Regions from separate parts of the Homo sapiens genome. Here all the other regions are linked to region 1. Evidence: fine-mapped expression QTL. A gene starts in region 1. Each other region holds a variant in brackets. All regions are shown on one strand. Distances are between the middles of the regions.

The links. PIP is the estimated chance that this variant, and not a neighbour inherited with it, causes the effect.
Region 2: its variant is the best candidate, but not a certain one, in a credible set for the expression of LASP1NB in whole blood (TOPMed, PIP 0.51).
Region 3: its variant is the best candidate, but not a certain one, in a credible set for the expression of LASP1NB in transverse colon (GTEx, PIP 0.64).

What each region holds. Positions count from the first base shown.
Region 1 is chr17:38,921,388-38,928,751 of GRCh38, reverse strand. It overlaps LASP1NB (LASP1 neighbor), which reads right to left and starts at 3,138. Exons shown (of 2, transcript NM_001414697.1): 1 at 2,861-3,138; 2 at 1-2,335. The coding sequence starts at 3,058. The coding sequence ends at 2,981. LASP1 (LIM and SH3 protein 1) reads right to left here. Exons shown (of 7, transcript NM_006148.4): 7 at 6,982-7,364. RefSeq lists an enhancer at 6,143-6,753.
Region 2 is chr17:38,900,264-38,907,627 of GRCh38, reverse strand. All of the region lies in intron 4 of LASP1 (LIM and SH3 protein 1), which reads right to left. Among named protein-coding and RNA genes, the nearest start is that of MIR6779, 11 kb to the left of the region's middle. RefSeq lists an enhancer at 5,639-6,264. The variant G/C (reference allele first, on the strand shown) is at 3,722.
Region 3 is chr17:38,992,393-38,999,756 of GRCh38, reverse strand. No RefSeq gene overlaps it. Among named protein-coding and RNA genes, the nearest start is that of FBXO47, 29 kb to the right of the region's middle. The variant AGT/T (reference allele first, on the strand shown) is at 4,538.

The sequences.
Region 1 (7,364 bases):
AGTGGAAAATGTCACATCAAGGACTCCACTGAAGATCATTTCTAAATATATCCAGGTTCACAGCCATGCTGCTTGCATCCATGTATGTCAGATTACCTATCTTTTTGCTACATACCACGATGCAGTATCATACTTGTTAATATTCCTTAAACAGTTTAGGCAAATTATCACAGACATAATATATATTTGGAGTAAATAAATATGGCCATTTTCTCATCAAAATCTGGCTGTTGGTGAAAAAAAAAGAGTTTTGCAGTTAAATTTTTGTTATAAAGTGTCATGTTGGGAAGAATATTCAGAAAAGGGGGACTACCAGTGAACTATTAAGAGTTCGTTCCATGGGAATTCTGTTCTCGATGTAGTTTCCAAAGAGATAATGCGACCTTGGCCTAACACTTTCATTTGACAGAATAAACAGAGGACCTAAAGTTTATGTATTTATTTATTTTTATTTTATTTTTTATTTTTGTGGAGACGGGGGTCTCGCTATATTGCCTGGGCTGGTCTGGAATTCTTGGCCTCAAGCTATCCTCCTGCTTCTACTTCCCTAAATGCTGGGATTATAGGCATGCGCCATAGCACCTGGCCTAGCCCTAAAGTTTAAATGACTTATGAAAGGTCAGGTCATATAATTTGTTGCCAAAACAAAGCTTCCAGAATAGTGTTTTTTCTTGTCCATAATTTTTATGTTTTTATTATTATTTTTTTTTGAGATGGGGTCTTGCTGTGTCACCTAGGCTGGAGTGCAGAGGTGTGATCTCGGCTCACTGCAACCTCTGCCTCCCAGGTTCAAGCGATTCTCCTGCCTCAGCCTCCTGAGTAGCTGGGATTACAGGCACCTGCCACCACACCAGCTAATTTTTGTATTTTTAGTAGAGACAGGGTTTCACCACGTTGGTCAGACTGGTCTCAAACTCCCGACCTCAAGTGATCCTCCTGCCTGAGCCTCCCAAAGTGCTGGGATTCCAGGCGTGAGCCACCGTGCCCGGCCTTGTCCATAATTTTTAAACACAACTTTTCCATTTCAGTTGTGACATATAATGCCTCAATTTTTGTTTTAAAACATGGAAATTGGACACAATGTTATTACTAAAAACTAATCTTTCTCCTTGTTTATTTATTTATTTATTTTATTTTATTTGAGACGGAATCTCGCTATGTCTCCCAGGCTGGAGTGCAGTGACATGATGTCGGCTCACTACAACCTCTGCCTCCCGGGTTCAAGCAATTCTTCGGCCTCAGCCTCCCGGGTAGCTGGGACTACAGGCGCGCACTACTGTGCCTGACTAATTTTTGTATTTTTAGTAGAGACGGGGTTTCACCGTGTTGGCCAGGCTGGTCTCCAACTCCTGACCTCAGGTGATCCATCCGCCTCGGCCTCCCAGAGTGCTGGGATTACAGGCATGAGCCACCACTCCTGACTCTCCTTGTTTACTTTTAAGCAAGAAAGGAAAATTAAATGTAGAACAATTATGATAGACTTGTAAAAGGAATAAACACCCCAGATTTGCAGGCCAATTCTACTCTGAATCCCAAAATACATAGTTTCTTCAACTCTAATGGGTCAGAGAACTATGTGGAAAGTTTTTTCCAGAAAAGATCTTTGATTAAAACACACACACACACACACACGCACACACACACACACACACACACTCATTTTGGGGTAAGAGATTTTTCCTAAATAAGTATAGCCATCTTGTTTCTATCATTTATAATTCAATCAGGTGCAAAGAGAGGACTATATAACCATTTCTCCCTTTAAATGAGAAACTGGGATACAAGTGGTTTGAGGTGGGGAAGAAATGATACATTTTAAAAACTCAAATGACAAGTTCTTCCTGGCTGGAGAGTGAGACAAGAGAAACCACAAAACCCCAGACTGTGCAATCTGTAAAGACAGTGATAAAGTGACTACTTCATAGATGAAGATGGACAACTTGAACTTCCCCTTGAGTTTCACAAGGGAGTCCTGTGTGTGAGAAGGAAGGAACATATTTGAGTGTAATGTGCAGTTGCATTTAGATCTAAGGAAACTTAAAATGAATTTAAGTTTCCTTAATTCAAAATGAATTTTTGAGCAGTTCTCCACGGTAACTTTAATAAGTCTCCATTTCAACTTTCTGTTCTCAATCCCATCTACAGCTCAAACATATGCAGTATCTGCCAGCCCTGTCCATGAATTCCTGAAGTCCCAGCCAAGTGCCTCTCAGCTCAAAAAGCCCCTTGCTTGCCAGGGGTCAGCCATGTCTGGAAGGCTCTGAAAGAGGTCTGCTGGGCAGTAGGACTGCTTCTGTGGATGAGAGGCCTCTTGTTGGACTGGAGAGACCAGGAGCTGTAAGAAACCCAGAAATAAAAAGTCTCAGATGGGGACAACTGCAAAGTACCAGGAGTTCCTCCCTCCTCTCCACCATATCCCACAGTTGGACATCTCCCCGAAAACCCCACCCCAAGTAAAATTTATTTGCCGTCTCACCCTCAAATAAGAATGAGTCAATCATTAAGTAATGCAATTATACAAGCATAGTTGTAAACAACTATATTGCAAGTATGCTGACATGCAAAGATGTGTTTTACCTTTAATTACCAGAAGAAAATAGACAACTTGAGTTTGAGCACCTAACTTGAAGAAGAAATTAGGAAATAATAGTCCCTCCCCACCACATCCATCATTCCCAACCCGTTCTGCCTAAAAATCGTTTACATTGTGGATTTTATTTGTAATTTTTAAAGTCTTATTTTAAATTAGGTCCCAAAGAAAGAAGCTGGCATTTCTTATTCTTTTCAGAGTGGTCTAAGAAAAAAAATAGGAAAGCAAACTCTTTCTTTTTTTCTTTTCTTTTTTTTTTGGAATCAATACCCGAGATAACAGCAGAAGCAAAAATCCACCGGTGCGTCAGCAAGCAGGGCACTCGGCCATTCATCTCCATCCTTCCTTCTGAGCTGTTCTCCAGCAGGCTCCGGCCGCAGCTCCAGGCCACTAGAGCAGATAGATAATGTAGGACAGAATGACCAGGCCTATGATGGCAAAGAACATCAGGATGAAAATATCCAGCATTGTGGATTCCTAGGCCGACCAAGCCCCTGGATTCTGGTGAACCGTGAGCTGTGAGCACGGAGGTTGCAGTCGGTGGAGAGAAATGGCTCCCCTTCACTCCACAGCTCAGCCCTGGTTCTTTCCCCTCCCCCTCCCAGGGGCCTGAGACTGAAGGATGCTGCAGCTCCACCAGCAGCTTCCTGCCCCCCCACCAACCACAGCCAACCAATCACAAAGCCTGGGGGTGGATAGCCAAGGAGATGCCAGATTTAGACCCACAGAACCGCAGAATCAAAGGGGCTCAATTTCTCCCCAGGAACCCAATCCCACCCCTTTGTATCTAAATGGAGCCTGCATGCTCTGGATGTAGGAGGAGATAGGATCCTACCCAGCTCCCCCAAGAGTGAATCCTCCTGACTGCCTTCTTCGCGTTTCCTCTCACACACCTCGGGCAGATTATCTCAGAAAAATCATGGTTGGGTATTGGGTGGGCCATTGGCAACTTCTAAAGGTCACATTATGGGGAGACACAGACAAAAGTTTCGTGTGGATCTCAGTGGGCTTCCCTGAGGGATGAAGCTAACATTTATACATTTCCTACACTGGGCCAGATATCGTACATGTGGTGCAATTTCAACCTCCCTATGAGTCTTTCATAGATGGGGCTCAGAGATGGTCAGAAACTTACCCTAATGGTTCATAGCTTAGATGTGTCAGAGACCAGCCGGGCGCAGTGGCTCATGCCTATAATCCCAGCACTTTGGGAGGCCGAGGCAGGTGGATCACAAGGTCAGGAGTTCAAGACCAGCCTGGCCAAGATGGTGAAACCCTGTCTCTACTAAAAATACAAAAGTTAGCCAGGCTTGGTGGTGCATGCCTGTAATCCCAGCTACTTGGGAGGCTGAGGCAGAGAATTGCTTGAACCCGGGAGGCAGAGCTGAGATCGCGCCACTGCACCCCAGCCTGGGCTACAGAGCAAGATTCTGTCTCAAAAAAAAAATAAAAATAAAAATTAGCCGGGCGTGGTGGCAGGTGCCTGTTATCCCAGCTATTCAAGAGGCTGAGGCTAAAGAATTGCTTGAACCCGGCAGGCAGAGGTCGCAGTGAGCTGAGACCGTGCCATTGCACTCCAGCCTGGGTGACAGAGCGAGACTCCGTCTCAAAAATAAATAAATTAATAAATAAAATAAAAAGTAAAAGGCTGGGTGTGGTGGCTCATGCCTGTAATCCCAACACTTTGGGAGGCTGAGGTAGGTGAATCACCTGAGGTCAGGAGTTCAAGACCAGCCTGACCAACATGGAGAAACTCCAGCTCTACTAAAAATACAAAATTAGCTGGGCATGGTGGCACATGCCTGTAATCCCAGCTACTCAGGAGGCTGAGGCAGGAGAATCGCTTGAACCTGGGAGGTGGAGGTTGCAGTGAGCTGAGATTGTGCCATTGCACTCCAGCCTGGGCAACAAGAGTGAAACTCCGTCTCAAAATAATTAATTAATTAATTAAAAATGTCAGAGACCAGGATTCAAAACTAGGCATGCTGACACCAAAGTCCATATTCTTCCTCTTGCGCCACACTGCTCCCCCTGTTGGTCCGGAAGGCCCCTACACCCCACGTGCACTGCTCAGCTTGCAGTGGACTGCTTTCACATCGATCCACCTACAGGACGAGCACCAGAGACCCCTCCTCCACCCACTCCTTCGTCTCTTTGCAGTCATTACCCACTGTTTTGTTTTCCTTCTTTCTTTTTTTATAGAGACGGGGTCTTGCCATTTTGCCCAGGCTGGTCTCAAACTCCTGGACTCAAGCGATCCTCCCACCTCAGCCTCCCAAAGTGCTGGGATTGCAGGTGTGAACCACCGCACCCGGCCTAGTTTTGTTTTCTTTGGTATCCTCTTCCAAAAGCTCAGCATAGTGTTGTACACAGAGAGGACACTGAAGAATTCCCCAGGGGTATCCCTGAAATTTAAAAAATTCAAGTGGTTTCTTCTGAGGGGGAAAAGAGAATTATTTTATTCTTTTTATTTATTTATTTATTTATTTATTTATTTATTTATTTATTTATTCTTAGACGGAGTCTTGCTCTGTCACCCAGGCTGGAGTGCAGTGGCACGATCTCAGCTCAGTGCAAGCTCTGCCTCCCGGGTTCACGCCATTCTCCTGCCTCAGCCTCCCGAGTAGCTGGGACTACAGGCACCCGCCACCGCGCCCAGCTTATTTTTTGTATTTTTAGTATAGACGGGGTTTCACTGTGTTAGCCAGGATTTTTGTGCCTTTTTATAAGCCTCAATTATTTTCTATTAAATTAAATCATTCCCTAGGACGTCTCTGAGGCCTAGTCTCCTTGGCCCCCACCCCAAATAATATTTTTTTTAAAGGCCTGGGGTTAAGATATATTGGTAACCCCCTCATAATGCAAGACCTCAGGAACTTAGGCCACTGCCAGAAGGAAATCCAGAAACTCCTCCCATTGGCCCATTTCCAGGAGGCAGAGCTTTCTGTGAGCAGGGAGTGGAGACTTGGCAGCAATGTCCCCCAAAGCACTGTTCCATCAAATAGATCTGAAGGTGAATGAAGCCTCCCGGGGAGTGGGGCAGGCCGACATGAGGCAAGCTTTGCCAACTAATTCCCTTCTATTGGGAAAGTATTGGGCTGCCTGCACCCCTGGAGGGGAGCAGGTGTCAGTGCTGTCTCTAATTATACCACCCAGGGCAGCCTTGGATGCTCCCCACATTGCCCCAGCTCAGCTGACTCTGGCCATGTCATTCTCCAGATTACAAATGCTCAGCTCAGGAGAGCCCTCCTCCTCTCCACCCTGCTGTGATTCTGAGGCTGGAGAATTCCTTAGTTCTGAGCCCCAAGAGAGAAATGCCCCTCAAGCAGCTGGACCTGAGGCTGATTGGCAGCACTGAGCAGGGCCAGATTCCCCTCTCTACCACTGTCCTCTTCCCAAGCCCAATGAGCAAGAGGGGAGGCCGCCTGGCCTTCTGGCCAGTCACAGACCCTGGGCACCTGGAGCAAAACATGGAGCCCAGGAGACACACATCTAAGAGCTGCCACAGACACAGGCACGCGGCCTGCCATGGCCGGGTGGCACAGCACCAGACTGTGAGCATCACATGGGGGTCTCAGGCCCCACTCTGCCACTAGCTGTGACTGCCACCAATCTGCTTTGCCTTTCTGGGTTTCAGTGAGCCCCTCTATAAGTAGTTACTTCTCTCACAGGGTTGTGAGGAAGAAGGAAGAAAGGGGATGTGTATTAAAGATTACATTCAGAAGGCACTGTGAATAGTGCTTTGGGTTGCCAGGCCACCTTACAGACAGCTTTATCCAGGTCCCGTCCCACTGTGGAATGCCCTGTCATCTCGTTCCTCAAATGCGTGGAGCTCCTGCTCTCTGCCTGGCAGCGGCAGAGTGCTAGAACTGCTCCCCAGCCAAGCTCATTCATTAATTCAACAGCTCCGCACCGCTCCTGGGCAGGTACCCGGGATTTAGAGATGAATTAGACTCATCACCTGCCCCAAGGGCTCTGGCTAGTGGGGAGACAGATATGTCACTGAGGAAGTGACACAGTAATACGAGACGGAGCTCAGGGAAGCTTCCGGGAGCATCACCAAGTTGGGCAGAGAGGAATGAGCGGGTGGAAAGCCAGAAGTAGGTTGGTGGGGAGTTCTCAGCAAGGAGGAAGTAGGGGCCAAGGGCCTGACAGACAGCAGCAAACTCCCCCTTGGCATCCAGACAAGTCATTCTCTCCCCGAGGGGCAGCAGAGGTCCCAGGAGGGCCACAGGCCAGTGCCCCCAAGCAGACAGGACACACACACACACACACACACAGTGGCACCTTACAGCTAGACACACACACACACAGCAGCACCTTACAGCTAGAGACACACACCCACACACAGACACACACAACAGCAGCTCAGAGCCAGAGAGGAAACCAAGTCCGCAGGTAAAAATTATACTTTTATTTGAGTCACCAGGAGAAAGATTCACTTGTGGTTCAAGTCAAATGTTCAGAATCATAACAGGCCAGAAAGGTTTGATCCCGAGCACAAGCCCACGAGGGAGGGGACCAAAACAGACCAAAATGAGACAACAACCCCATATAAAAAGATGAACTGGCGGCTTCACACACTCACACACATACACATACACACGGATGAAATGTTTGGACAGAGGCAAATTTCACGTGGTCATTTCTGTTTCTTTTTAAATACAGGTTTGTAGGGTGGTATTTTGTTTTTTCCAGCTATAAAAAAAGGCCCAAAAGTGCATGTGTGAGGGGGGAAAGGCAGAAATTAAGCAATAAAGTCATTTTCCCTGGA
Region 2 (7,364 bases), 21 kb after region 1:
ACAGCTTGACCAAGCTCTTCATACCCTGACAATCATTGCCCTAAAAAATGGGCCGGACACGCACACTTTCATTCCCATCTTCCAGAAGAGGAACATGAGGCTCAGAAATTAAATGACTTCCCGAGGCAGAGCTTTCATTGCTCAGTAACAGCCAAGGCTGGTGACACAAGGACAAAATCACAGCTAGACAGGCCCTTTCCTGAGAACAGGTGTGGAGCAGGGTGACCACACGCCCAAGTCCCAGTTCATGTCTGCTGCTCAGGGATAAATTTCAATGCACCCCTTTTCACTCTCAACAAGAATGATAATCAGAAAGTCACCCTAACTCGAGAGAGAGGGACACCAGGCATGCAACTCAGGACAGGCGGCACAGAGCGGCTAAATGGGCTGAGAAAAAGTGAGGCTCAGCTCCTTCCAGCCTGGGCCCACTTGGATAAAATTTCCAAACCCTCAGCTTCCTCTCCTTCCCCTCGCCAGCAAATGAGGAAATTGTGTTATTACTTTCCTGACCCACCTACTGGTTTGTTAAGCAAATAGGCACATGAGGGGGATGTTAGCACATTCAGAAGGCAAGGAAACATTTCCCAGCTTCCAAGGGCCTGGCTCATCCCTGCTCCAAGCTCTGCAAAGTTCTGGCCTTCAGAGAGCCCTGAGTGAGGAGCGCCCTAAGCCCAGACATGTCAGCACAGCCCCCAGCCTGGAAGCTGTCCTGGGCCTCTGTGGACACAGGCCACACTCTACCTGTGCCCATGAGGTCCAAGTACATGTGGGTTCAGGGGTCCAGGCCTAAGGACCCTCCCGACTCAGCCAGGACCCTACTAGCTGGGACTCCAGGATGACAAGTTAGGGTCCATGACAAAGCTCTGCTAGCTGATGTTCTGTTTTCTGACCCCCCTGCTCTCCCAACTGTGGTGGAAAATAAAAGTCTGACTCTCCATACGGTGCTCCTCACATGATTATACATCACAGTGAACGAGGGAACAGCAGGCTCTGGGTGGAATCATCAGCTCACCAGCTAGGGTCTTTTTTTGGGTGCCCTTACATGCATTACTCATTTCCTTTTCTTTTTTAACTTTATTTATTTATTTATTTATTTATTTTGAGACAGTCTTGCTCTGTCGCCCAGGATGGAGTGCAGTGGTGCGATCTCAGCTCACTGCAACCTCCACCTTCCAAGTTCAACCAATTCTCCTGCTTCTGTCTCCCAAGTAGCTGAGACTACAGGGGTGCACCACCATGCCCAGCTATTTTTTTCTATTTTTAGTGGACGCGGGGGTTTGCCATGTTGGTCAGGCTGATCTCAAACTCCTGGCCTCAAATCATCCACCTGCCTCAGCCTGCCAAAGTGCTGGGATTACAGGCCTGAGCCACCGCGCCTGGCCTCATTTCCTTTCCTCAGCCAGCCCGAGAATACTGCCATTTTACAGATAGGGAAACCAAGGCTCAAGATGTGGGCAAACAGTGGGTTAAGTCAGAATCCAGTTCTAACATCAGAGCCTCAGTTCTCAACCACCATGCAATACTGCTCCCCATCAGAGACTCACAATATTTTATTTATTTATTTTTTAGAGACAGGGTCTCGCTCTGTCACCAAGGCTGGAGTGCGGTGGCGTGATCATGGCTCACTGCAGCCTCAAACTCCTGGGCTCAAGCAATCTTACCACCTCAGCCGCTCGAGTAGCTGGGACTACAGGTGGATGCCACCATGCACGGCTAATTTTCTTTCTTTTTTTTGTAGAGATGGTATCTTGCTATGTTGCCCAGGCAAGTCTTAAACTCCTGGCCTCAAGCAATCCTCCCACCACAGCCTCCCAAACTGTTAGGATACAGGCGTGAGCCCACCATGCCCCAGTATTTTATTTTTAAAACAAACAAAAGTCTGTACTCAACTTCATTAGTAATCACAGAAATGCAATCTAAAACCATCGGCTATCACACTCTACACGATCAAAATGCTAAAGTGAACATATCTGAGCACATGGAGCAAATGAAACTCATCTCTGCTGGTGGGAGGGTAAATCAGTGCAGCCACTTGGAAAATAGTTCCGCATTATCTCGTAAAGTTGAAGGAGCACACTTTTTTTTTTTTTTTTTTTTGAGATGGAGTCTCACTCTGTCGCCCAGGCTGGAATGCAGTGGTGCGATCTCAACTCACTGCATCCTCTGCCTCCCAGGTTCAGTGATTCTCCTGCCTCAGCCTCCAGAGCAGCTGGGATTGCGCCACCGAGTGCGCCACCACACCCGGCTAATTTTTTGTATTTTTAGTTGAGACGGGGTTTCACTGTGTTAGCCAGGATGGTCTTGATCTCTTGACCTCATGATCCACCCACTTCGGTCTCCCAAAGTGCTGGGATTACAGGTGTGAACCACCACGGCCCGGCCCAAGGAGCACACATTCTAAGATGCAGCAGTTCCAATGTACATAGACCTCAGGAGATATGTACAAAAATGTCCATAGCAACTGGAAACAGTACAAATGTCCACCAGCAACAGAATCAATAAAATGTGGTATAAACAAACAATGGAATACTATATAGCAATGAAAAAGGATGTACTACCGCTACACACAAACATATGGATGAATCTTTAAACCCAATGGTGTGTAAGAGAAGCAAGATACACAAAATTACTCTGTGTTCAAAATCAGGAAAAGCAAAACTATAGTGTTTAAGAATACATAATTACATACTAAAATTATAATGAAAAATACATGCTTTCAAAATCAAACTAGAGGATTGTCCAACAAACCTGCCTTCAGAGTATTTTACTCTGGGGACAAAACTTTGTTTGACTATTTACTATTGATTAGGCCCAGACTCTAAAGACTGAAGCTCATTACAGAGTATAAAATGCTCATTATTTCTGGCCAACTGAGATGCAAAGCATTTCTGCCTGCAGCAAAGATATCTTCAAAGTTTATGGTTTTATTTTCCTGTAGGACAATAGCCAATGTGTAACTAATGGTAGGCCCTTAACCATTTCTGTAGCTAAATGTATCCAGTACTCTCTTTTTTCCTTTTTTTTTTTTTATTTTTGAGACGGAGTCTTGCTCTGTTGCCCAGGCTGGAGTGCAGTGGTGTAGTCTCAGCTCACTGCAACCTCCACTTCCCGGGTTCAAGCAATTGTCCTGCCTCAGCTTCCCAAGTAACTGGGACTACAGGTGTGCACCACCACACCTGGCTAATTTTTGTATTTTTAGTAGAGACAGGGTTTCACCATGCTGGCCAGGCTGGTCTTGAACTCCAGACCTCAGGTGATCTGCCCGCTTCGGCCTCCCAAAGTGCTGGGGTTACAGATATGAGCCACCTCGCCCGGCCCCAGCACTTTCTTTCACAGACTAGCATTTACCTCTGCCTCTCATATTCCCCAGTTTTAATCTCTAGCTGGTTCCCTCATAATTAAATAAAGATATGATAAGTACTTACTACATGGGAGTTATATTTTTAACACTGTGAACACTGGGCTCTTGACAGGCATACAGTAATACAATGTATGGTATACCTGCCTGGTGAAACAGGTGTTTATTGTATATGTTACTATGTGTCATATTTCACACATAAAAAAAGTTTTAAGGACACAAAATTGTATACAGAAAATCAATATGTAAGTAAATAAAAGAAGAGGCTCCAGTAAAGTGACTAAAGTTTTCCATACTTGAACACTGCTAGAGCTCATGACAAAAGGCCAGGATTCCTAACATGTAACCTTTATCCCATAGCAT[G/C]GACCCATCAAAAGGCAACTCTTCAAATGCCTTTAATGATGACACAACTACTCACCATAGATGTGTAATATACTGGCCCCTTTCCTCACTTCCACACATTCTCAGTACTAGACAATGGCCAAACTTTTCTGCCAAACTTCACTTTATGACCCTTCTCCGGCAACAGTGTAGAAAGCAGACAAGTGTGCCTTTAAAGTATTGATAACATTGACAACATAACTGGGTGTGATGGCGTGTGCCTGTAATCCCAGCAACCTGGGAGTCTTAGGCCAGGGTTCACTTAAACCCAGGAGTTCAAGGCTGCAGTGAGCTGTGATCACGTGACTACACTCCAGCCTGGGCAGCATAGCAAGACCCTCTCTCTACAAAAAAAATAACAATTAGCTGGGCATGGTGCTATATGCCTGTAGTACCAGCTACTCAGGAGGTTGACGGGAGAGGACCACTTGTGCCCAAGAGTTCGAGGCTGCAGTGACCTATGATCGTGCCACTGTACTCCAGCCTGGGCAATCTTGTCTCAAAAATAATAATGATGATAATAAGAGTGATATCATTTATCCCATGCCAAGCACTTGGCATGTTCCTTGCAACCACCTGTCAAAGTAGGGCCTACTGTCCCATTTTTACAAATGAGGAAACTGAGGCTCAAAGAGCCCTGCCTGGCCCCAGAATGACAGAAGCTAGGATCTGGGCCCTTACCATCTCTTCCTACCTCACTGTCTCACCACTTAGCAAGACTGAAGACAGACTGCACTTATCCAAAGCAGACACCCCAGAGGAGATCAGACACTTGTTTTTAAAATGCTCTGGCTGGTAAAAAGCCCTAGTCTGCAGCATATCCCTCCAAGGAAGCATATCCTCATTCTTTTGTAAGATGGCCTGACCTTTAGAAATAACTGGAGTCAGCTGGGCACAGTGGCTCACACCTGTAATCCCAGCACCTTGGGAGGCCAAGGCAGGTGGATCACCTGAGGTCAGGAGTTCGAGACCAGCCGAGCCAATATGGCAAAACCCTGTGTCTACTAAAAATACAAAAATTAGCCAGGCGTGGTGGCATGTGCCTATAGTCCTAGCTACTCAGAAGGCTGAGGCAGAAGAATCGCTTCAACCCGGGAGGCAGAGGTTGCAGTGAGCCAAGATCACGCCACTGCACTCCAGCCTGGGCGACAGAGCGAGACTCTATCTCAAAAATAAAATAAAACTAAAATTAAAAATAAATAAATAAAGTAACTGGAGTCATTTGGTGCTAATCTGGGAAGCAAAGCAACAAGCTACATACAGGAACAGGAATGCTATTTTGGATACAAAACAAAAGGTGTGGCTCTAAACACCCTATTTTCCAAAACACTTCAGGAGGTTGGGACAACTTAGCAATGGTTTTATGTGTGGTTTAAAGCTCCCAGGCGCAGTGGCTCATGCCTGTAGTAGTCCCAGAACTTTGGGAGGCCGAGGTGGGCGGATCACTTAAGTCCAGGAGTTTAAGACAACATAGTGAGACCCTGTCTCTGATTAAAAAAAAAAAAAAAAAAAAAAAGCTCCCCTGGGAGGCCAGGTGAGGTGGCTCACCCCTATAATCCCAGCACTTTAGGAGGCTGAGGCGGGAGGATAACTTGAATCCAGGAGTTTGAGACCAGCCTGGGCAACATAGCAAGATAGTGTCTCTGCAAAAAAAAGAAAAATTAGCTGGGCATGGTGGTGCACACCTGTGGTCCCAGCTACTCGGAGTCTGAGGTGGGAGAATGGCTTGATCCCAGAAGATTCAGGCTGCACTGAGCCGTGAACACACCACCGCACTCCAGCCCGGATGACGGAGCGAAACCCTGTCTCAAAAATAAAAATAGGCTGGGCTCGGTGTCTCACGCCTGTAATCCCAGCACTTTGGGAGGCCGAGGCGGGTGGATCACAAGGTCAGGAGATCAAGATCATCCTGGCTAACACGGCGAAACCCCATCTCTACTAAAAATACAAAAACTATTAGCCGGGCGTGGTGGCGGGCGCCTGTAGTCCCAGCTACTCACGAGGCTGAGGCAGCAGAATGGCGTGAACCCGGGAGGCGGAGGTTGCAGTGAGCCGAGATTGCGCCACTGCACTCCAGCCTGGGTGATAAACCAAGGCTCCGTCTCAAAAAAATAAAAATAAAAATAAAGCTCCCCTGGGGTTCTGAGGTACAGCCTGATCTGGCACCCTCTGACTTAGGGGTTGGTGAAGCTTTTTCAGACTTTTAGGTGGTGGCTCTCAAACTTCAGAGAGCACCACAGAAACCCAGGGAATGTGTCTAACATGCTGATTCCTGGGCCCCACTCCCAGAGACGCTGATTCTGGCAGCCAGGGGAGAAGGCCTGTGAGTCTGCATTTTCAGTCAACCCTACAGGTGACTGTGCTACAGCTGTCTGGAGGCCCATATCCGACAGACTGTAATTGCTTTCATTAAAACCAAGAGTCTCCAGGCTTTGCATTCACACCCTACAGGTCTCTGCTAAAGCTGCAAAAGCAGCTAGCAGGTCGGGGTCGATCCCTTCCCCCAGCTCCTGCAGAGGACCATTAGCTCACTGCAGCACCGCGAGAAGGGTAAAAGATGGTTATCTCCTGAGATGCGGATGGCTTGGCCAGGGTGGTGAGTTTTGTCACTAGGATATTAACACCTCTAACTGGGGGAGGGAAGAAGAGGAGGTGGCTTAGGCTGAGTGTGGAGTGTTCTGGAAGCCTTCCAGAAAGGGAAGCAGGGATGACTGGGCTTGTCTCCCCTCCTCCAAAACCCACAGGGTGAAGCAATGAGTGAACAGCCAGGGAGCTGGGGTTGCACATTGGGAGCAAGTGTCACTGATAAAAGACTAGAGCCTCTACATGAAAAGCCGCAGAGGCTGAAGAGCCGACATTCCAGTTCTGTGAACCATTCCGGGTTTTCCCCATAATCTAAGACCATCTTCCCCCTCCCCCACTTTCCAAGCCGAGAGCTCTGAAACACAGACCTAAGGGTCTTACCCTTTGCAGGGTCTGAGCCAAAGGGAAGCTCCAGGGCGTGAGGCCAGGCCCTAGCATATAAAGAGTCAACTGTGACAGGCCTCTGGAAGTTGGAGGGGAAGGAGGATTAGAGTGCCCGCCCTAGGCATCCCCTGCTAGCCAAAGGGAAGCATGCCATTTCCTCAGGCCACCAACTTCAAACTGCAGGTCAACAGTCCAGTTGCAAAACCCATTCACAGTAAGTCTGCAACCAGCATCTTTTTGGTTTTTTTTTGAGATGGAGTCTTGCTCTGTCGCCAGGCTGGAGTGCAGTGGCCCGATCTCGACTCACTGCAACCTCTGCCTCCCGAGTTCAAGCGGTTCTTCTGTCTCAGCCTCCCAAGTAGCTGGGATTACAGGCACACGCCACCACGCCCAGCTAATTTTTGTATTTTTAGTAGAGATGGGGTTTCACCATGTTGGCCAGGATGGTCTCGATCTCTTGACCTCATGATCCGCCCACCTCAGCCTCTCAAAGTGCTGGGATTACAGGCATGAGCCACCGCGCCTGGTCCTTTTTTTTTTTGGAAACAGGGTCTCACTCGGTTTCCCAGGCTGGAATGCAGTGGTGCAATTACGGCTCACTATAACCTCAAACCTCTGGGCTCAGGTGATCCTCCCACTTCAGCCTCCTGAATAGCTA
Region 3 (7,364 bases), 71 kb before region 1:
GCATATTCTCTCACACAGGTGAGACCCTAAAGCTATACCCTTACTATTAGGCTAAACTAGAAATACATCTGACCACAAGGGGCTATAGCCAAAATGGCCTTGGTTCTTGGTACTACATAAAAGTGAAAAAGGGCCAGGTGTGGTGGCTCACGCCTGTAACCCCAGCACTTTGGGAGGCTGAGGCGGGTGGATCACGAGGTTGGGAGATCGAGACCATCCTGGCTAACACAGTGAAACCCCATCTCTACTAAAAATACAAAAAATTAGCCAGGCGTGGTGGCAGGCGCCTGTAGTCCCAGCTACTCCGGAGGCTGAGGCAGGAGAATGGTGTGAACCCAGGAGGCGGAGCTTGCAGTGAGCCAAGATTGCGCCACTGCATTCCAGCCTGGGTGACAGAGCAAGACTCCATCTCAAAAAAAAAAAAAAAAGTGAAAAAGAACTCCTGAAAAAGATATAAAAGCTAGTCCTAACAATTTGCAGTTTAGTTTCACAGGGTCGAATCGTCTGAAAAGCCTCCAGCAGAGATTTTAATTTAAAGTGGTCCTAAGGGCCAGGTGTGGTGGCTCACGCCTATAATCTCAGCACTTTGGGAGGCCAAGGCAAGTGGATCACCTGGCAAGTGGATCACCTGAGGTCGGCAGTTTGCGACCAGCCTGGCCAACATGATGAAACCCCATCTCTACTAAAAATACAAAAATTAGCTGGGCTTGGTGGCAGGCACCTGTAATTCCAGCTACTCGGGAGGCTGAGGCAGGAGAATCACTTAAACCCAAAAAACGGAGGTTGCAGTGAACCAAGATGGCACCACTGTACTCCAGCCTGGGTAACAAGAGTGAAACTCCACCTCAAAAATAAATAAATAAATAAATAAAATAAAACAAAGTGGTCCTAAGTACCTAAAGTGCTAGAAGAAGCATATGCAATTCTCTCTAGAAGAACCCACCTTTATCTCAGGCCTCAAAAAATTCCCACATATAGTTTTGATAAAAATAACCACAGAATCAAAAATCACAAAACCGAAACAAACTAGGCACCATGAGCAAAAGAAGCAGAAATATAGACAGCAGAATCAGACCTACAAAGACTGTAGATATAGAAATTATCAGAAACATGACATAAAATTACTATTTTAGAGCTTTTAAGAAATAAAAATGAGGCCAGGCATGGTGGCTCACACCTGTAATCCCAACACTTTGGGAGGCCGAGGTGGACAGATCACGAAGTCAAGAGATGGAGACCATCCTGGCCAACATGGTGAAACCCTGTCTCTACTAAAAATACAAAAATTAGTTGGGCATGGTGGTGCATGCCTGTAGTTCCAGCTACTCGGGAGGCTGAGGCAGGAGAATCGCTTAATCCCGGGACTGCGGAGGTTGCAGTGAACCCAGATGGTGCCACCGCACTCCAGCCTGGGTGACAGAGCAAGACTCTGTCTCAAAAAAAAAAAAAGAAAAAGAAAAAGAAAGACAGACAAATGGAATTAATAATAAAAGAATATACAAATGACCAAGCAGTTTTTTTTAAAAAAAATACAATTCTGGAGATGAAAAATATAGTAATAAAAATTTTAAATTCATTGGACAGATTTAATAGCAGGTTAGACACAACTGAAAAGAGAAGGCAGTTCAGAGGAAGAAGGGGTGAAAAAAAGCAGAGAAAACAGAGTGAAAGAAATGATGCAGATGACAGCACAGTGAGAAAAATAAATGGAAAATGAGCCGGGCACTGTATCTGTAATCTCACTGCTGGGATTATGGGCTCACACCTGTAATCCCAGCACTTTGGGAGGCCAAGGCAGGAGGATTGCTTGAGGCCAGGAGTTTGAGACCAGCCTAGGCAACATAGTGAGACCTAGTGTCTGCAAAAACACAAAAATTAGCCAGGTGTCGTGGTGCATGCCTGTAGTCCCAGCTACTCAGGAGGCTGAGGCAGGAGGATTGCTTGAGGCCTGGAGGTGGAGGTTGCAGTGAGTTGTGATTGCACCACTGCACTACAGCCTAGGTAACAGAGCAAGGCCTTGTCAAAAAAAAAGAAAAAGAAAGGGGAGGGCAGGGGAAGGGAGGGGAGAAGGAAGGGAGAAAGAGAGAGAGGAAGGGAAAGAAAGAGAGAGAGGAAGGGAAAGAAAGAAAATAAATGGAAAATAAGATACCCAGATTCAAGAACCTCAGTAACTTCATAACAGAAATAAAAGGAAATCCACATTTCAACACATTATAATAAAATTGCAGAGCACTGAAGACAGAGACTAGATCTTAGAAACAGACAAAAGAGGCTGGGCGCAGTGGCTTATACCTGTAATCCCAACACTTTGGGAGGCCGAGGCGGGTAGATTGCTTGAGGTCAGGCGTTCAAGACCAGCCTAGACAACATGGCAAAACCCCATCTCTACTAAAAATACAAAAAATTAGCTGAGCGTGGTGGCAGGCGCCTGTAATCCCAGCTACTTGGGAGGCTGAAGCAGAATTGCTTGAACCCAGGAGGTGGAGGTTGCAGTGAGCTGAGATTCATGCCATTGCACTCCAGCCTGGGCAACAAGAGCGAAACTCCATCTCAAAAAAAAAAAAAAAAAGAAAAGAAAAGAAACAGACAAAAGAGTCAGAAAACTTCAGCCTGAAACAATTTGATTGACAGCTGATTTCTCAAGAGCAACAATAAAAGTAAGATGATGATGGAATAATACCTTCAATGTGCTGAGGAAATTACCATCAACCTAGAACTCTATACCCACTGAAAATATCTATAAAGAACAAAGGAGAAGAAGGAGGAAGAGGAGGAGAGGAGGAGGAGGAATATCAAACAAATAGAACCTAAAATCATTTGCTACCAAAGACCCTTTTCTTAGGAAATTCTTAGGAAACGACAGATAAACAGATAGATGCCAGGCACAGTGGCTCACATCAATTACCTCAGCCTGAAGTAACTACTTCAGGCAGAAGGAACGTAACCTCAGATGGAAGGAATGAGATAAAGGAAGGAGTGAATCACATGTGAACTCTGTATTTTATCTGATCTGCTACTGACTACATAAAACTACAACAAAATCTACAGCTAACATCTAAAAAGCTAACAAGAGGGTGTCCACTGCCATCCGGACCCCCAGGGCCACAGGGTAGGCCCAGCCGTGGCTTGGTACTCCCTGTGGGCCTCAACAAGGGTCATAAGGTGACCAAGAGGGAGAGCAAGACAAAGCACAGCCCCCTGGCAGGCATGGCGCCAAGCACACCAGGTTCTTGTGGGGCGTGATCTGAGAAGCGTGGGCTTCACCTGAAACAAGCCAGCAACTTGCCCGCGGAGCTGTTCCAAATATCCACGGGAGATCTGGCCCTCACATTCATCAAGAAAAGGGTGGGGACATACATCCTCAGCAAGAGGGAGTGGGAAGGACTGAGCAGGGCCCCAGTCTTCATTAGGAAAGCAGCTGCCACAAGGACTGAGCTCCTCCTCTGTCTGTGCATAATGAAACCTTGATGGAATAAACCAAGACAGAATAAAATACACAGCCCGTAGCATAGAAGTCAGAAGGTGAGCGATTGGTGTTCAAGTGTTCTAAGGCCATTGTGGTGTATGGGAGAAGGTAAAAGGATAAAGATTTACTGTGGATTTTGGTAAGTCAAGCATGCACAATAAATTTTTAGGTCAGTCACTAAAAGATGAGAAATAGAATATTTAGCTTCCAAACTAGTAGAGGGGGAAAAATAAGAAAAAAATGAAGTGATGAAAAGTAATTGATCAAAAAGAAGAGAGAAGAAAAAAGTAAGCATAAAAAGGAAGAATCAAATAGACAATAAAAATATGTGTGTGTTTATATATATATATACACATACATAAACTTTCAAATGGTTTCAAACACACACACACACACACACACACACACACACACACACACTTTCAAATGGTTTAAATATATATATGGCCAGCTGAGTGGCTCATGCCTGTAATCCCAGCACTTTCGGAGGCTGAGGTGGGTGGATCACCTGAGGTCAGGAGTTTGAGACCAGCCTGGCCAACACGGTGAAACCCCGTCTCTACTAAAAATACAAAAATTAGCTGGGTGTGGTGGCAGGTGCCCATAATCCCAGCTACTCAGGAGGCCGAGGCAGGAGAATCGCTTGAACCCAGGAGGCGGAGGTTGCAGTGAGCCGAGATCATGCCATTGCACTCCAACCTGGGTGACAAGGCAAGACTCCATCTCCATATAGATATATAATGTATATATGTATGTGTGTATATATAAAAGATAGATGATTGATTGACAGATAAACAGGCAGATGCCAGGCATGGTGGCTGACATCAGTTGCCTCAGCCTTTTGAAAGGCTGAGATGGGAGTGATTGCTTCAGGCCAGGAGTTTGAAGCCAGCCTGGATAATAGTGAAACCCTGTCTCTACAAAATATTTTAAAATTAGCTAGGCACAGTGTCATGCACCTGTAGTCCCAGCTACTCCGGAGGCTGAGGTGGGAGGATCACTCCTTGAACCCAGGAGTTTGAGGCTGCCGTGAGTTATGATTTCACCACTGTACTCCAGCCTGGGCAACAG[AGT/T]GAGTCTTTGTCTCTAAAATTAAAAAAAAAAAAGTAAAGGTAAATAGACAAAGCAAAAATGATAAAATGTTAACAATTGTTGTAACTAGGTATTTGTGTGCTGATTGTACTGTTCTTTCACCTTTCATATACACTGACAATTTTTTGTAATGAAAAGTTATAGCTGGGTGCATTGGCTCATGCCTATAATACTAGCATTTTGGGAGGCTGAGGTGGGAGGATTGCTTGAGGCCAGGAGTTCAAGACCAGCCTGGTCAACACAGTGAGACACTGAATCTAAAAAAAAAGTTTAAAAAGTAAAGTAGCCGGGTGTAGTGGCTCACGCCTGTAATCTTAGCACTTTGGGAGGCCGAGGCAGGTGGATCACCTGAAGTCAGGAGTTCGAGACCAGCCTGGACAACATGTTGAAACCCCGTCTCTACTAAAAAATACAAAAATTAGCCAGGCGTGGTGGCACACGCCTGTAATCCCAGCTGCCCGGGAGGCTGAGGCAGGAGAATCGCTTGAATCTGGCAGGCAGCGGTTGCAGTGAGCCAAGATCGCACCATTGCACTCCAGCCTGGACGACAAGAGTGAGACTCCGTCTCGAAAAAAAAAAAAAGAGAGAGAGATACTTTATAATAGGATCAAATATATGAAGTACAGAGTAATAAATCAAACAAAAGATGTGCCAGAGCTCTCTAAGGAAAAAATAATAAAGCTTTATTAAAAGATTTAAAGAATACTAAAATAAATAGAGCACTGTGTTCATGCAATGCAAGATACACATTTATAAAAATGTCAGTTCTCCTTAAATTGATCTACAGATTCAATGCAATCTCAGTCAAAATCCCAACAGATTTTGTGAAGAATTTGACAAACTTATTCTAAAATGTAAATGAAAGTACAAAAGACCAGGAATAGCCAAGACAAAATAAAAGGACTTCCTTTCCAGATCTAGCCTCTTTAACAGTCAACAATGATTACGGAAGTGTGATATTGGAGCAAGGTCAGAAAAGTAGAGCACTGAAAACAATAGAAAGCCCAGAAATACACACCTGCCTCCATGCCACTTGACATATAACAGAGGGGGGCTTGTGGTTAGATAAGTGCAATAAATAGCACTAGGACATTGAGGATCTATACAGAAAAAAACAAAACGAACTCTACTTTTCACCACATACAAAATTCAGTTCCAGGTGAATCAGGAATCCAAATATGAAAAGTGAAAAATAACATAAAGCTTTTAGAAGATAATAAAAGAGAATATTTTCATGACCTCAGAATAGTGGAGGATTTCTTTTTCTTTCTTTCTTTTCTTTCTTTTTTTTTTTTTAGACATCGTCTTGCTTTGTCGCCCAGGCTAGAGTGTGGAGCGTAGTGATGCAATCTCGGCTCACTGCATCCTCCACCTCCCAGGTTCAAGCGATTCTCCTACCTCAGCCTCCTGAGTAGTTGGGATTACAGCTATGTGCCACCATGCCCGGCTAATTTTTGTATTTTTAGTAGAGACGGGGTTTCACCTTGGCCAGGCTGGTCTTGAACTCCTGACCTCCAGTGATCTGCCCACCTCAGTCTGCCAACGTGCAGGGATTACAGGTGTGAGCCACCACGCCCCACCAGAATAGTGGAGGATTTCTTAAACAGGAGGCAGAAAGGCAATGTTGCTCTCCAGGGCACTTTCGGCAATGTCTGGAGACATTTTTGGTTATCATAATTTGGGCAGAAGGGTGCTATTGGTATCTAATGGACAGAGGCCAGGGATGCTGGTAAACCTCCTACAATATACAGGACAGCCCCCAACACACACACACGCGCACACACACACACACACACACACAGAGTCACACACACAAAAAAAACAAGGAATTTTCCAGCCCAAAATGTCAATAGTGCCAAGATTGAGACATTCTACTACGTTCATACTAAAGAACATCTGTTCATGAAAAGATACCATTAAGAGACTAAAAATTATCTAGGATACAGAAAGAAGCACAATCAATAAAAAGACAACACAATGGGAAAATGGGAAGACATGGGTATATCCTTCAGAAAAAAGGAAATCCAAAGACTAACAAACCAAACATACAAAAAAGATGCCCAACCTAAGTAGTAATCAGAGAAATATAAATTAAAAATCATTGGCCAGGTACAGTGGCTCATGCCTGTAATCCCAACATTTTGGGAGGCTGAGGTGGGAGGATTGCTTGAGGCCAGGAGTTGGAGACCAGCTTGGGTAATGTAGGGAGACCACTGTCTCTACCAAAAAGAATTAGGCAGCCATGGCAGTGTGCATCTGTAGTCCCAGCTCCTCAGGAGGCTGAGGCAGAAGGATCACTTGAGCCCAGGAGTTCAAGGTTACAGTGAGTTATGAAAGTAACACTGCACTCCAACATCGGTGACAGCAACTCTAAATAATAATAATAATAATGAGATACAATTTACAACTATGGGACAGGCGCGGTGGCACACGCCTGTAATCTCAGCACTTTGGGAGGCCGAGTGGGCGGATCACCTGAGGTCAGGAGTTTGGGACCAGCCTGGCCAACATGGTGAAACCCCATCTCTACTAAAAATACAAAAATTAGCCGGGTGTGGTGGCGGGCACCTGTAATCCCAGCTACTCAGGAGGCTGAGGCAGGAGAATTGCTTGAACCTGGGAGGCAGAGGTTGCAGTGAGCCGAGATCGCGCCATTGCACTCCAGCCTGGGCGACAGAGCAAGACGCAGTCTCAAAAAAAAAAAAAAGAACAATTTACAACTATCAGATTGGCAAAAAATAAAGTCTTACTACTAAATGTTAGGCAAAGGTATGGAACAACAGGAAATATATACTGGAATGAGAGT